Regions from separate parts of the Homo sapiens genome. Here region 2 is linked to region 1. Evidence: fine-mapped expression QTL. Tissue or cell type: whole blood. Region 1 holds a variant in brackets; the other region holds the start of a gene. All regions are shown on one strand. Distances are from middle to middle.

Region 1 (5,149 bases):
TCACTCCAGTAAACTAGTCTTTATTAACTGTTTGTTCTCCACCCATTCTTAGAGCAGGTTTCCTGAAAGAAGTGTGTGTTAGACTGGAAAGGTGATAAGTGAGTGGGCAGTAGAGTGTGTAGTGTGGCCCACATCTCACCATGGCCAGGTCAAGGTAAGCCTCCCTTGGGTATCACATCCTTCTAGCTTCTTCTTTGTTTAAAGATTTTTTCCACATAGTGTCTAACACAAAAAGGGATCTGAAAACTTGCTCTTATTCTTGTCCAGGTGAATGAAACATGCCAGTTAGGTGAAGGTCTTTCTCCCGTGGGTCAGTGAACTCTGACCTGGAGAACATGGTTCCTTAGTCACAACAGCCATGCCACTATAGCAAGGGGCTCTTAGAGGACAGAGCAAGAGTGTGGATGGACAGCTGAGCCAAACCCTCATCTTTCTGTTAAGAAAAACCCTCCAAGTGTGGATCTCAGCCATGGGTCAGCAGCAGCATGAGCTGAATAGGCAGAGTTGGGGTGGAAAAAGTACTGGAGGTCCTGGGTTCAAGTCTTCTTAGGGCCATTAATTGAATTACCCTGGGCCCTCCACTCAGGGCCACTGAGCAGCTTCATCTGTAAAATGAGTGATAACAAGTGTCTGGCTCACTTTCAAAGGAGCTTGTGAGGATCAGCTGAAAGGAATGATAGCTCCCAGTGGTCAAGATGTGCTGAACAACTTTGCCAGGTACTTGCCCACATGATGCTGTTTAATTCTCCCAACTTCCTAGAACAAATTGAGGCTCAAGGGGGGTAAAAAAAACTCGAGGAAGTTCAGCCAGAGAAGTGAAAGCACCTGTCCTTGTATCATCATCCCCATTTACTCTCTAACAGACCCTTCAGAACCTTTAAGCCCACCACTCTTGCCAGGAGCAAGGGTGCAGAAATATGCCTGTTCTTCCAACTTAGCAGGTGCTAAGCCTCAAATGTCCTTTTTGTTCTCCATCTTCCTTTCTCAATCCCAGCTCCAACTTGTGACTTGTGATTATAAGTAACAAAACTCACATTTGTATAGCACAACCCAGCTTGTGACTGCGCTATACAAATGTAAGTTTTGTTAATATAATGACTTTATGACTTAGAACAATTTTCCTGTCTATTCTATTCCAGGCTCTCTGTTTTATGCTTTCTGGTTTCTTCTTTGTCCAAACACCTACATTTCTAGAGATGTCAGAAATGCTTTCTTGCTTCCCCTCTGTGCCTGGGGGGTATTTTTCACGTCCAAGAAATATCAGCATCATCATCAGAACCTTTGCCAGTGTTCTCTGCATGGAATTGGTCAGTGTTCTCTGTATGGAATTTCCCAAAGGCTTTTGAATTCAGCAGTAAAAGGTTCTAGAAGGAAGAGGGTCTCAGAAAAGCTGAGTGGCTTAAGGTTGATTCCTCCCAGGGCCTTGTCTCTCAAGGAAAAGTGTCAGGGGGAATTTGCTCAGCATCTCCGTGCATCGGAGTGCACCCACACAGCCCTCGTCCCTCCTCCCGCCTCCAGCTCAGACATTAACGTGCACCAGCACATGCCCGCAAGCAAGGCGTCTCACTGAGTGCTCTCAGTTCCCAGTTCTGTGTGAATTTCGGAGCAAATACCAGTGGGAGAACTGTCCCCAGAGTCCCAGACTCCACTCCACTATTCCCTGCTGCTGTTGCTGTGGCCGAACCCCACTCCTGGGTCTGATGGCTGTGGATTCTCCTTGCTGCGTGATTCTAGGTGTCTGGCTAGAATGGAGCTAGGAGTGAGGACATGAAAGCCATTGCCTGAAGTCATTAAAAATGGAGGATTAGAAAGAGCTTATTTTATATTCAGAGAAGGGGGAGAGTGCTGAAGCTGCTCTCTGCCCACAGCTGTAGACTCTGATGGCAAATGGTAAAGCTTTTGTTACTATCTGAGAAGGGGAAGAGATTGATAACCAGCACCCTGGCACTGAGCGATAGGAGGGAAAGCCACATTTCAGTTGTGACAGGGTTTCATGCTTGCCTCTCAGCTCCATGGCTTTGAAAACTACATCCCTCTGCTTCTCCACCTTTGGCCCTCCTGTCCCATCCATGCAGCCTCCACACCTCTCCCCACTGGGTGTGGGGCTTCTGCCTTCTCGGACTCTGATGTTCTCCCTGTGACTCAATGTTTTCATAAGCCTAAGTGATTTACAGCCCATGTTTACTTATATATTTCACTGAATTCTTGCAGTAACACAGGAAGTGGGCATTGCCTTAGTAATTCTGATTTCAGAGATGAGAAGGCAAGGTCCTAAGCCAAGGAGAGCCTGCCATAAAGGGGCAGAGTTGGAGCTTGAACCCTTGTTGCTGACCCTGGAGCCTGTGCCACTCTGTGACTCCACACTGTCTCTGTTGGCCAGCATCCTACACCAAACACAGTTTCCTCACCTACCTGCTGGGGGGCTCGTGTCAGCTCAACATACATTAACTGAGCCTTTTCCTGTTGCCGGGGACCGTGCTACATTTTGGAGGTGTAGAGATGAAAAATACGTTTTTTACCTAGGCAATGTACATAGGGAATGTAATGTACCCATGCCTGGGACCTTGCTTGGCACATAGGAGACACTTAAATGTTAGTCAGATGAATGAATGAATGAATGAA[C/TGAATGAAC]CCATGCTTTCTGCCCTTGATGAACTTAGGATCTGGTTAGGAGAAGAGAGTTGCAGGTACCTAGCTATGCCAGGTGCTGACATAGAGAAGTGTGCCTGGAAGCCATAGGAGCACAGAGGGCATTTCCTGAACTTGGGTGTTCAGGTGAGGCTTTTGGAGAAGTCGTCCTGAAGTGCAGCTTGAGGATGAGCAGGACTCACTCAGATCAAGGACATTCTGGGCAGAGGAAATGAAATAAAGGAGGCCCAAAGCCATGGAACCCTGTGATATGTGCTCATGATTATGGAAAGTGTAGAGTTATTGGGGCCTGAAGGACAAGCCAGGGAAGTGGTAGGTGACTCTCAAGGTAGCCAGACCTTGGGGTGTTTGTGTATCAGGATCCTTCTTAAGCTGGAACTTTATCCCTAGAGTAGGAGGGCTTAAAGGTTTTGAGGAGAAGGAAATGCAGTCATGTTTGTGACTAACCAGGTGATTATGGCTGCAGATTGGAGCTGAATTTAAGAAAATAGGCTGTCTCATGGGGACCAGAGACTGTGAGGACGTGAACCAGGACCGTAAGGACATGAGCCAGAGCAGTGGTAGCGAGGATGGAGGGGAGGAGACAGATTTGAAAACTATGAAAGATTTAATCAGTATGATTTGGTAATTGGTTGTCGACAGGAGATGAGAGAAAGGGAGTTGCCTGTAATTACTTTCCTATTTCTGGCTTGAGTTACTCAGTAGATGGTGGTGCCAGAAACTGAGATCAGCAATTCCAGAGGAAGCCAAGGTTTATATGTGTGTGTAGGGGGTGCGGGTGGAGTGGGAGGTGGGCGTGGTGAGGGCGGCGGATAAAATGGGCCAAGAAAAGATGGGAATATGATGTGTCCATTATTTAGATATATTTGCAGTTGTTAGGCCTGTAGGATATCTGAGGGGTATGTTCAGCAACCCAAGGACTATCGGAGTCTACATGATTGGGAGCTATTGGTGTCTACATGATGGGAGAGGGGCTAGAGTTGGACAAAAATATTTAGAAATGGTCAATATACCCAATGTAGTTAGGACTATGGGCAAGGATGAGATTGCCCAAGTAGCATGCAAGGTGAGAGAGGCAGGAAGCTAAGATTAGAGAGGAAGGAAAATACCAGTGTTTATGGGGTGGACAGAGGAGGAGGAGCCAGCAAAGGAGACCAAGGGGAAGGGCAGCCAGGGGAGTGTAATGTTGGGAAGTCAAAAGAGAGAGATCCAAGAAATGAATGGTCACCATGGCAAAGGCAGCAAAGAGGTTCATAAAGACAAGTACTGGAACATTTCCACTTGAACCTCACAGTATGGAGGCTGTGTTTCGGGGGAATGGTGGGAATGGAAGCCAAATGGCAAAGGGGTTAGGAGGGGATAGGAAGTGAGGAAGCAGAGGAGACTCTTTCAAGCAGTTTTGCTGATAAAAGGAGAAACACCCAAGGGTGTTTCCCAAGGGGAATTTTTTTAAATAAAAGAGATGAACATTGTTTTTGTTAAGTGCAGAATAACATGTGAGAAAGAGAAAATAAAGATAGAGTTCATAAAGGAGGGTCCATGGGAAAGAATAGGTGGAAGGCCACAGGAGGAAGAATTCACCTTAAATAGACACATCTGAGGGCAGCTGGAAGGAGGTCAGGGTGTGTGTAATATGGATAGATTAGTAGGAGTTGTTAGTAAGTGAAAAGAGGTCCAGGTATTTCATACCTGAGGCCTTGATGATCTTGATGGGACAGGAGATCAGGTTGTGAGGGTGTGAAGAGTTGTGTATGTTGCATAAGCTCTCTCTCTCCACTCTACCTTCCTGCCCTTCAGCTGCCCTCACAGAAACTAGTTGGCCACTGGAAAGGTCATTTGTAAAACCTGAGTTCAGTGTTTAAGGCTGTGATCATAGTAGGAACAGAGAAGGGCTGTGGAGGTGAGCAAACAGGCCATCATTTCTCTCCTTGTCCAGTGTTAACATATGGCCCTGAATTCTGCCTGTATAGATGGGCAGCTCAGCAGTGGGAACAAAGGATGTGGCTGGATTCCATCCAGGAACTCTGAGTTGGAGTCCTGGCTATGCCTCTAAGAAATGTGACATTGGACAAAGTCTTCAAAGTTTAGTTTCTGTAGGTGATGTCTAGGAGTTATACCCACTCTAAACCTCTGTGAATTTTAGCACCTGCTCCCTAGGCATAAAATAATAGACTTTTCTTAAAATGGATTTATTCAAGGGGAGAAAAACTTACAATGGAAAATGTACAGAAAATCAAGTTCCATTCAAATAGTCTCCTCCTTCTGTATTTCAGTTTTCTTGTACTTTGTTGGCTTATTTTACTGAAGCCACACATTGTAGGCACAATTTCAAATATACACAAGTCAAGAGAACAGAACAATGAGTCCCTACGTACCTACCACCCAGCTTCCCACCCAAGATGATGTTGAAGCTGTTCATGATAGCATATCATTTCAACTATAAATATTTCAGAGTATACCTCTAAAAGATAAGGTCTCTTAAAAAAGCCTCAATATCAAAATTGCACTA
Region 2 (5,149 bases), 92 kb after region 1:
AAAAAAGAAAAGAATGGGGACAAGCTGTTTCTCTGTGATGTTCAGTGATATAGATCAAATCCTTAGAGCAAGTTACTTAACCACTTTATGCTTCAGTTTTCTTATCTGCAAAACGGAGACAAAAATAGTATATACATCATAAGGATAAGATTAAATAATTTAATACATATATAAAGTGTTCAGAACAGTTCCTGGACCATATTAAAGAGCTATGTAAATGTTTGTCATTATTAACAGAATCATCCACATTTTCATCACTCTTACTAATATCATTAGTTCTGGTAGCAAGGCAGCATAGGTCAAGATATAGAGGTAGAAGCATATGACATAATGTGACAAGGAACTGGAGGCTAGCACTGATGATGCCCATGAGGAGTAGGGACAGGCAGGGACTGTATTATAACCTGAAATCATGATATGTTGGGTTTTTCAACTGTTTATGATCTATTTCTGCCTATTAAGATGCAAGCTCCTAGAAGAACTCTGTGAGGAACTGGTGTGGTAAATCATTCTATGCCAGATATGCAGAATAGTCACTGGTAACATAGTCAGTGCTCAATAAGTTTTTTTTTTTTTTTTGAGACGGAGTCTTGCTCTGTCATCCAGGCTGGAGTGTAGTGGTACTATGTTGGCTCACTTCAACCTCCACCTCCCGGGTTCGAGCAATTCTCCTGCCTCAGCCTCCCGAGTAGCTGGGATTACAGGTGCACAACACCACACCTGGCTACTTTTTGTATTTTTAGTAGAGACGCGGTTTCACCATGTTGGCCAGGCTGGTCTTGAACTCCTGAACTCAGGTGATCTGCCTGCCTTGGCCTCCCAAAGTGCTGGGATTACAGGTGTGAGCCACCACGCCTGTCCAACAAGTATTAATTAAATGAATAATGGGTTAAGGATTTTTGAACTTTGTCCTGAAAATGATGGTGGGTCAATGATGCAGGGTGGAACAATGGATGAAGGGCTAGGAAGCAAGTCATCAATTTCTTGCTATAAATGATGACAAGGACTCGAATGGTCATCCCTTTGTAGATGAAAGCAAGAGACTTGGTGTTGGGATGAGGATGAGGGGTGGCCTCCGGGTGATGGTGCCATCTGTGGAGATGGAATAAGTGGGAGGAGGGGCAGATTTAGGAAAAGATGAGTATTTCCATTTGACACATATTCAAGATTTGTAGGTCTAAAGCTCAGCAGAGAGGCTGGGGTTAGAGAGCGAGGCCTGGGAATCCCTGGTGTATAAGGGGTGGTAGAGGCCCCGGGTCTGGATGGTGTGACACAGGTGGTCGTCAAGTGACCATGCACTACTTGTTGTTCACAAGTCCCAGGGCTTTGTCTCCCCAGCAAGACTGGGTATTCTTTGGGGATGGAAATACTTTCCACTACAGCACTAAGTACACAGTACACAGCTCATTGCTAGGAAGATAGTCAAGAACAGAACTTGTAGAGCAGAAAGGAACCTTCAAAACCAAGTTATAGGAGAGAACTGAGGCCCTACATGGTTAAATCACATGCCTGAGGTCACTCAGCTAAGCAGCCACAGAGCTGGCTGTAGGATCAGGTCTCCAGACTGCCAGTCCGGTACCCTTCTGAGAAGGCCGCACTGCCTCAGAGCTGTGAGTTGAGTGAGCTGAGAAAGGTGACAGGGCTTGGGCTTTGGGCTTACTTAGCTTCTATGAGCCTGCGTTTCATAATCAACAAGATTGTCAGGGGTTAACTGGGACCATGCTGCATGTAAAGCATTGTGTCTGGAACACAATAGGTGCTCAATATGTGTTTACTTTCCATTCCTTTCTTCCAAGAAGACCAGAATTTGCAATGACAAAGAAAGGATGCAAGAGTGATGGATGCAGTTGGCTGCTGCCACCTGAAAGGCTGCAAGACTGAGAGGTGAGTGACATGACCCCGGGCATCACATTCCTCATCAGCAGACAGAAAGTGGCTATTGCTTTCCTCCAGAAGGTGTGCAAGTAGAAGCTTTGCTCCTGGTGCCAGAGTGAGCCTGTGGCTGCTTTCCCTCCCACACTCCTCACTCCTTTCTTGGCTCCGCCCTGCTGACTCAGTGACGCAGCAGGAGGAAACTGCTCGGGCTGCAAGCAGTCTTCCAGGCTTTGCGGCTGCCAAAGGAATAATTGAGACGTCTGAGTTGAGCAGGTAAGGCAGGCAGAAGGAGGAAAGCTAGAAAACCTCGATAAGTCGATCCTGAAGAATTCTTGGGCTTTGGAGACTGGAGAGGCCAGGGGCTGGAGGACTTGGGAAGTGGGAGGGGAGCTCCCAGCCCTTGGCTGCCCGGAAGGATCTTCCTCCAGTGCCCTTCCAGAGTTCTGTCAGAGTCCACACGTCATTTATCCATGTCCTCAGTTTCTCAGGCATCTCTTTGCGACTTACTCAGGTCGCACAGAGAAAGTGAAATTGAAAGCAGGATTGTCTGTTGGAGTACTTCCGCAGGCTCGTCTCTTCTCTACTCTGATGCGTCACTCAGGGCTTCCTTGATATTTCCTCTCCTTCCCGGCTCCTTTGTTTATACCAGCCCACCTCACATCTGATTGTAATGGGGACGGTCTACACAAACACTTTGGTTCAAAGATTTCATTGCCTGGTGATCGTGTATGTGTTGCACAATTAATTAAACTTCTAAGAGGCTAATCAATTAACCTCTGAGGCTTTGAAACTGTCAGAGTGGTGAGATTGCTGAAAAAGGGTTGCTTCGTGAATTCTATAGCAGATGCAGTTATTTAAATATTCAGGTAACAGTTTCGGGCTGTCTGATGATTGAACTGGATCTGTAATTCTCAGATCTGATTGACAGTTGGACGAAATTGATAGCTGCCAGTTGCCTATTCGTGTAGTAGCTATATGCACATGTGTAGGGAGAATAGAATTCACTAAGCAATTTATTTTTTCATAACGGGATATAATTAGCTCTAACATTCATTGAGTGGCTAATATTTGCAACACTCCATACTTTAATGTACTTTACACACATGACTGTATTTATTTTTGTCTCCATTTCAGGAAATAGAAAATTGAGATTCAACAATCCAAGGTTACAGGAAGTAATAGTAAAAAATTACACAGCCACAAGCTCAAACTTAGATCTCCCTAAGGTCAGAGTACAAGCTCTTTTCACTACTGCAGATACTCCTTGACTTATGATGGGGTTACATACAGATAAACCCATCCTAAATTGAAAATATTGTAGGTCAAAAGCACATTTAATACACCTAATCTACTGAACGTCATAGCTTATCCTAGCTTACCTTAAATGTGCTCAGAACACTTACATTAGGCTACAGTTGGGCAAAATCATCTAGCTCAAAGCTTATTTTATAATAAAGTGTTAAATGTCTCATGTATTTATCGAATGCTATGCTGAAATAAAAAACAGAATGGTTGTATGTGTACTTGAAGTGTGGTTTCTACTGAATGTTTATTGCTTTTCCACCACTGCAAAGTCAAAAAATCATAAATCAAAGTCAAAAAACATAAGTCAGATATTGTCTGTACTTTAAATAGGGGCACAGGGTTGTACAAAGAGGACATGCACAGAGTCAGCAAACACAGTGATCAACCTTCCTGGTGACATAAGAAATGCAAAGGGAAAAAAAGCCAAGAAATATATTTTTCTTATTGAATGAGGGTTCTTCTTTTTTTATTGATAAATAATTGATGTGCATATTTTCATGGTCTTTTTTTTTTTTTTTTGGAAGCCACCTATCTCTGGTAAGAATATATTTATATGACATTGAAAGCAATTTGTTAATATAGGTTAAGAATCCTAAATACAATCATATCTTTTGAATAGTCATTAAATTCTTTGAAGTCTATCATATGAAATCTATCATAAGATCTATCGAAAGAAAATAAACTAAAATAAGCTGAATTTGCTGCAACATCATTTAGATTTTTTAAATTTTTAATTTTAAAAAACCCTTTAAAACTTATTTTTGAAAACCACTCAGTAATAGAGAAATGAAACAACTGTATGATTTCATATTACATAGTCATGAAAAATGTTTTACAAGACTTTGCAATAACACAGGAAATGACTTATAGTATGGTATTAAATGAAAGGAAGTAGGATACAGTTACTTACAGAGTATAATTCCAAATGTCTTAAAAAATATATAGAAATACACTAAAATATTAACATTGGCTGTTTCTGGGCATTGGGACTAGAGAAATAATTTTCTTATTTTGAATTTACATATATTTATAATATTCTGTAATTTAAAAGTTTTATAAGAAATAAATATATGTATTTAGAAAAAATGCTAATATAATTAATTTCTCTGATTCAAGTGTTTTCTCCCTATTGTAAAATTACAAAGCACCTCTCTTCGTTGCCAGGTGGAATGTCAGAAGACTGAGAACATTGTTCCTTCTTCATACTGCTGCTCTGTTGCCAGAGAATCCCAATTTACACTCAAAGCTTCTTTGATTAAGTGCTAGGAGATAAATTTGCATTTTCTCAAGGAAAAGGCTAAAAGTGGTAGCAGGTGGCATTTACCGTCATGGAGAGCAGGGATCATAACAACCCCCAGGAGGGACCCACGTCCTCCAGCGGTAGAAGGGCTGCAGTGGAAGACAATCACTTGCTGATTAAAGCTGTTCAAAACGAAGATGTTGACCTGGTCCAGCAATTGCTGGAAGGTGGAGCCAATGTTAATTTCCAGGAAGAGGAAGGGGGCTGGACACCTCTGCATAACGCAGTACAAATGAGCAGGGAGGACATTGTGGAACTTCTGCTTCGTCATGGTGCTGACCCTGTTCTGAGGAAGAAGAATGGGGCCACGCCTTTTATCCTCGCAGCGATTGCGGGGAGCGTGAAGCTGCTGAAACTTTTCCTTTCTAAAGGAGCAGATGTCAATGAGTGTGATTTTTATGGCTTCACAGCCTTCATGGAAGCCGCTGTGTATGGTAAGGTCAAAGCCCTAAAATTCCTTTATAAGAGAGGAGCAAATGTGAATTTGAGGCGAAAGACAAAGGAGGATCAAGAGCGGCTGAGGAAAGGAGGGGCCACAGCTCTCATGGACGCTGCTGAAAAAGGACACGTAGAGGTCTTGAAGATTCTCCTTGATGAGATGGGGGCAGATGTAAACGCCTGTGACAATATGGGCAGAAATGCCTTGATCCATGCTCTCCTGAGCTCTGA

Evidence for each region. PIP is the estimated chance that this variant, and not a neighbour inherited with it, causes the effect.
Region 2: it holds the start of RNASEL, and the variant in region 1 is fine-mapped to the expression of RNASEL in whole blood (INTERVAL, PIP 0.98).

Annotation. Positions count from the first base shown.
Region 1 is chr1:182,678,096-182,683,244 of GRCh38, reverse strand. All of the region lies in intron 1 of RGS8 (regulator of G protein signaling 8), which reads left to right. Among named protein-coding and RNA genes, the nearest start is that of RGS8, 3.9 kb to the left of the region's middle. The variant C/TGAATGAAC (reference allele first, on the strand shown) is at 2,623.
Region 2 is chr1:182,586,166-182,591,314 of GRCh38, reverse strand. RNASEL (ribonuclease L) reads left to right here and starts at 2,059. Exons shown (of 7, transcript NM_021133.4): 1 at 2,059-2,148; 2 at 4,345-5,149. The coding sequence starts at 4,509. RefSeq lists an enhancer at 2,184-2,343.